Regions from separate parts of the Homo sapiens genome. Here region 1 is linked to region 2. Evidence: fine-mapped expression QTL. Tissue or cell type: whole blood. Region 2 holds a variant in brackets; the other region holds the start of a gene. All regions are shown on one strand. Distances are between the middles of the regions. Region 1 holds the start of ARHGAP8 (Rho GTPase activating protein 8). Region 2 overlaps PRR5 (proline rich 5).

The links.
Region 1: it holds the start of ARHGAP8, and the variant in region 2 is fine-mapped to the expression of ARHGAP8 in whole blood (TOPMed, PIP 0.90).

What each region holds. Positions count from the first base shown.
Region 1 is chr22:44,751,449-44,754,344 of GRCh38, reverse strand. ARHGAP8 (Rho GTPase activating protein 8) reads right to left here and starts at 1,770. Exons shown (of 12, transcript NM_181335.3): 1 at 1,718-1,770. The region is part of intron 4 of PRR5-ARHGAP8 (PRR5-ARHGAP8 readthrough); the gene reads right to left.
Region 2 is chr22:44,726,538-44,729,433 of GRCh38, reverse strand. PRR5 (proline rich 5) reads right to left here. Exons shown (of 8, transcript NM_181333.4): 4 at 2,800-2,857. It overlaps PRR5-ARHGAP8 (PRR5-ARHGAP8 readthrough), which reads right to left. Exons shown (of 15, transcript NM_181334.6): 4 at 2,800-2,857. Among named protein-coding and RNA genes, the nearest start is that of ARHGAP8, 25 kb to the left of the region's middle. The variant C/G (reference allele first, on the strand shown) is at 1,337.

The DNA of each region.
Region 1 (2,896 bases), 25 kb before region 2:
CACACAAAGTTTCAATGACCCAATGATGTTATCCAAGTAAATTGGCCCACCCCGTCAGGCACTCCATGGACTTTTCCACCCGTACCTCACAAGCGAAGTATCCCTAGCCAGTAGGTGCCATTCTCTTCCCCATCCACCTCCCATCCACCTTCCAGCTCAATGGCCACCTCCTCCAGGAAGCCCTTCCTAAGCTCCCACAAACCCTTGGATTCTCTCTACACAGAAGCCAGACTCTGGGCCCCTGAGGGCAGGGACCAGGCAGCTGGCTGTCCACAAGAATCAGCTGGGCTCAGGCCCACATCCCATGTCCCTCTTCGCCCTACCCCCAACTCTGGCGTTGGTTTGGGGAATGGTTAGTCAGTGAATCGAATGAGGAGTCCACAAACATGATCCTAAAGCTGCCAACAGAGAGGCCAACCAAAGGACATCGACTTCTGAAACGGCTGAGTCTTAAGCATTGAGTTCTCAGCTGGACAAATGCCAACACTGCATTTCACAGGCAAGCGAGGGACGGCACAGAGCTCTCTGGAATCTACACAGCCTCTGTCACAAAACCCTGAAGTCGGTGGCCAAGGTGCTGTCCCCATCCCGCCAAACAATCCCACCCTCCTTCCCGGGTGGACTCTGCGGTTCCTTCTCCGGGGCCTTCACACTCCTCCCAAGGCAGCGGAGAAATTTCCAAGTCAGGGTGTGGCAGAGCCCGAGGGATTCTCAGGAGCCCCCCCACCCCCCACAGGATTGAGGGAAAGTGAAAGGCAGGGCCTCCCTGCCTTCCTGACGACCTCCGAGGCTGCTAGCGGATTGGTTTAAACTTTGGGCTTTTAGGCCGGGCGCGGTGTCTCACGACTGTAATCCCAGCACTTTGGGAGGCCCAGGAAGACGGATCACCTGAGGTCAGGTGGTCGAGACCAGCCTGGACAACATGGTGAAACCCTGTCTGTACTAAAAATACAAAAAATTAGCTGGCATGGTGTCAGTCCCTGTAATCCCAGCTACTCGGGAGGCTGAGGCACAAGAATCGCTTGAACCCAGGAGGCGGAGGTTGCAGTGAGCAGAGATGCAACACTGCAATCCAGCCTGGGGACAGAGCAAGACTCGGTGTCAAAAAAAAAAAAAAAAGTTTCTGCTTTTAACTCCCGGGGGGTTCCACCGCTGTGTGTTGAACCGGCCAGCCCCCCACCCCCTGAGTTTGAATCAGCGCAGCACCTGCCCCGGCCTCCGTTTTCTCATCTATGAAACGGGAATGACCTCACCCACCTTGTAGGTTTGGGGTGTGTGGGGGCGGGGGAGGTGCCTCCCCCAGGCGCTGACCCGACCTAACCTGAGACCCCAGGACGGAAGCAAAAAAGGAACATTTGAGCTGACACCGTCCGGCCAGACCAGACCAAAACGCAGGCTGAGAGAGGCGAGGGCGGGGAAGGCGGTGCGGGGTGAGAAGGAACAGGACAGGGGAAAAAGCAGAGGAGGGGAGTGTGGGGGGGCGGGAAAGAAAGGAGGTGAAGGGAGAGGGAGTCTAGAACCCACAGGGGACCCGGAGGCTGCGCGCCGGCCGGAGGGTCTCCCCCCGGCCGCACGTGGCGTCGCGCCCGCCTGGGCGTCCCTACCCGGCCAGCGGCCCCTTGTCCCCGTACACGCCCTGGGAGCCCCCGCGGCGCACCCCCCCACCCCGAGCACGGCCTCCTCCCTGCGCGCTCCCTCCCGCCGCCGCCCGCCTTACCTGGCCACGGACCCCGCCGGCCCCCACCTGCGTGCCGGGTCTGCCGCTCACCTGGCCCCTCCCCGGACGTGGCTCCCGGGCAGGCCCCGCCCCCCCGCCCCTCCGCCCAGCCCCGCCCCTCCGCCCCTGCTACCCGGCGGGAGCCATTTCCCAGGTGCACGAGCTGACCCTGGGTCCACCTGTGTGTCGGGGGGACAGGGCGGGGTCGGGCGGAGCACACGCGCTCAGGAGCCCCTCGCACATCGCACCCTGGGCACCCCGATTCCCGGCTGGGCCGCGTCCCCGTCCCGCACGGCACCCATGCCTGGGGCGGGCACTTTCTTGCTGATCCATTTCCCCATTTCTTATTTTATTTATTCATTATTTTACTTTATGTATGTATGTATTTATTTATTTATTTTGAGACGGAGTCTCGCGCTGTCGCCCAGGCTGGAGTGCAGTGGCGCGATCTCGGCTTACTGCAGCTTCAACCTCCCGAGTTCAAGCGATCCTCCCACCTCAGCCTTCATAGTAGATGGGATTACAGACGTGCGCCGCCAAGCCCGGCTAAGTTTTGTATTTTTAGTGGAGACCGGGTTTCACCATGTTGGCCAGGCTGGTCTCGAACTCCCAACCTCAAACGATCCTCCCGCCTCCACCTCCCAAAGTGTTGAAATTACAGGCGTGAGCCACTGCGCCGGGCCCCATTTTTAATTTTACTTTTTTGAGACAGGGGTCTCGCTCTGTTCAGGCTGGAGTGCAGTGTCTTGAACTTGGTTCACTGCAGCCTCTACCTCCTGGATTCAGGCGATCCTCCGGCCTCAGCTTCCCGAGTAGCTGGGACCGCAGGTGTGCACCACCATACCCAGCTAATTTTTGTAGTTTTTGTAGAGACAGGAGTCTTGCCATGTTGTCCAGGCTGGTCTGGAACTCCTGGGCTCAAGTGATCCACCCTCCTCAGCCTCTCAAAGTGTTGGGATTACGTGCCTGAGCTACTGCACCTGGCCCCTTTCGTTAGGGGTGTACAAAGCGTGGCAGAACTGGGAGAATTGGAGGGACTTGAGAGGAAATTTTCCCTAGGGTTTGTTGAAGGATTTGTATCTGAGGAAAGCAGCTTAGATACAACAAAATATATCAGGCCCAGAGAAACAGTAGTATAGGACTTCAGTCCAGGTCCCCCTGCAGTGCTTGGGGGGCCAT
Region 2 (2,896 bases):
GAGCGGCCCCGCAGTAGCCTTGGCTCCGTGCTGGCTCCCACTCTGGGGTTCTCGCTGTGGGCGCAGGCTGGTGTCCGTCTTTCCTTTCTTTATCCGAGTGCTGAGGGCCCTGTGCAGGCCCTGCAAACCAACAACCCTGTTTCAGCCCGTCGGGAGACTCAGGAACAGTGAGGAGCGCAGGGCAGTGACAAAAGCCACGCGCTGGGTGGACCAGGTCAAGGGTGTCTGGCGCGGGGACGGCCGAGGCACAGGCATGGAGGCAAGCGTGTAAGGCAGCACAGCTGGGTCACGTGACCCATACCGGGTTTGGATTCCCTGGTGGATGAGCGACGGCAGATCCCAGGGCCCAGCAGAGGACCAGGAGCTCCCGCCCAGAGTTCCCAAGTTTCTGGCTTCCAAGGAGTTGCTTGGCTGCAGCTGGAGCCGATTCCCTTAAGCCACACACAGGCCATCAAACTACAACCCCGGCCGCGGTCCAGTCTTCCTCCCCTTCCTAGGGAGGCAGCCCTCCACCTCAAGGCCACTCCTCCAGGCTCTCCGCTTCCAGGACCGGCTCTGCCCAGGGGCTGAAGTCCAAGGCCTCCCTGGAGGCTGAGAAGGGGCAGGGGGCAAGGTCCTGGGGCTTCCCCACAGGGGGCCATCACCCACCTCTGGTAGAGGCTCTGTAGGGACAGCTGCAAGGAGCAGGCTCAAAGTGAAGAGCTCCCAGTGGAACCCAAGCAGGGGTAGGGAGCAGGAAGGGGGAGGCCCCTGAGGCCGCCCATCAGGATGTGGAGGTGGCTATGTCCCCACTGCATGGGGCCAAAAGGGACCACAAGTTCCCCTGAACAGACCACACTTTGAGGCCCTACTCAAGGGCCACTGCCTCCATGCAGCCCTCTCTGACTGCCAAGGTGGAATGAACCCTTTCTTCCCCAGGACACTCCTTCACAATGACATTAATCACACTCAACTGTCACCCTCGGGTCCGTGTCTGTGTCCCCAATTGGGCTGTGAGTCCCTGAAGGGCAGGGCCAGGTTCTCCTCCATCTCTGGGCTCCCAGAGGTCACCTGGGCCTGACATGTAGAGAACACTCAAGTGGACAGAGCCTGTTCAACCCCACATTGCTAAGACAGGGGTGCTGAGGCTGGAGAGGAAACCCTGTGTCTGCAGCTACATGGGAACTGGAGGCCAGGGCCTCAGACTCCCAGCGTAGAGCCCAGTGCCTGTCCCTGAGACCTGGGGAGGCCAGGAAGGGCTGGCGAGGCAGAAGAGGATGCTGGGCCTCCCAGGGCTGTCCTCTGCCCCTTCTGCTGGGCAGGCACCCCTGCTGGGAGGCCTGGCAGACCTGGCTGT[C/G]CCACGCAGAGCTCCTTTCAAGCCACACAAAACTCCCTTCTCCGAGAGCCCCGGCTCCCCTAGGCCAGATCTGGTGGGAGGTACAGGCACCGCCAGAATGTGCCGCATCAAGCGAGGGGCGTGGGTGGCCATCTTCGTCAGGTGCCAAATGCTCACAGCTCTGTCCTGCCAGTCTAGATGTTGCCTCCTCCAGGAAGCCTTCCCAGAACCCCCATGTCTCCCCGACGGTCTGATGGTTTTCATGGCCTCTCTTTGTGTTCCTGTCTTGGCTGGCCCCACCCAACATGTTCAGTGGACGTGAGGAAGGACCATGACACGCAGCTCCAAGGTCCCCTGGAACATGCCAGGCCTCCGGGCCTGTGTCCTTCTCTGTGGAGTGGGCTAGTAGCTCTTTTTCCCAGGGTCAGAGGGAGACCTGGAGGAGGAGCCTGGGGCAGCAGAGTGAAGAGTATGGGTTCGGGACCCGGTGGCCTGCTTGGCACCCTGGCCTTGCCACGGTGCAGCTGTGTGGCCTGGGCAGGACACCGTGCCTCACTTTCCCCATTCATTCAGTGCTAACAACGGTGGCTTCTTCACAGGGTTGTGGAAATCAAATGAGTTAGTAGATGTGAAACACTCGGGGCAGTCCAGCACGGAGGGACGCACACACCCGGTGCCTAGTGCACAGGTGCTCAACACACGGGTACAGCGCAGGCCCGATCCCAGCACAGCCCGAGCAAAGCAGCATCCGTGGGAACTGAGTGGACCCCCTCACCTGACCCCGCTCCCAGGGCAGCTCGCTCCTGCAAGGATGCGCACGCTGCTGCTGCTGCCCGAGGCTCTCGGCCACGGGAAGCCCAACCTGCACAGTGAGGCCAGCGGGGACCTCCGGGCCGTGAGAAGGGCAAAGGGTGTGTGCCCTAAAGTCAGGCAGACCTGGGTTTGAGTCCCGCCCCCACCCCTGATGTGCACTGTAGCCTTGGGCAAATCACTTATCATCACTGTACTCTCCCACTCAGGAACAATAACCTGAAGGTCCCAGTGGGTGGCTGTGAGCCTCGACAGAGAAAATTCAGCTGAGTCCCCCACCCTGTCCCCTCCTCTGTGAGTATCGGTGACCTCAGCCCTAACCGACTTCTCCTCTGACCCCCAAAGACCAGGACAGGGGCTCTCCCAGGCTGCGGGGACAGAGCTCACTAGGGCCAGAAAGTCCCGTGGGCAGGGAGGGGAAGCAGGGGGCTTTTCCCCGATGTCTCATAGCCCTCCTGGGCTCCAGCAAGTTCGGGGGGCAGACCCTCTCCCAGGGTTCCCTCTGGGTAAGGATCTCGGCCCTGCTGCCCTAAGGCTATACGTGTTCCTTCCAAGCCCTCCGGACCAGAGAGCCACACCTTGCACCCAGAGGCCCCCAGCACGAGGCCCAGCAGTCCAGCAGCCAGCCAGGACCCAGCATGGCCCAGAGTGGCCGCCAAGGGGCCCACACTCACCCTCATAGAAGCGAATCTTGTCCCGAAGGATCACCATGCCTTTTGTCAGCAGCTGGTTCTGAAGGTAAACACAGAGGGGCTGTCACCGCCCTTGTGG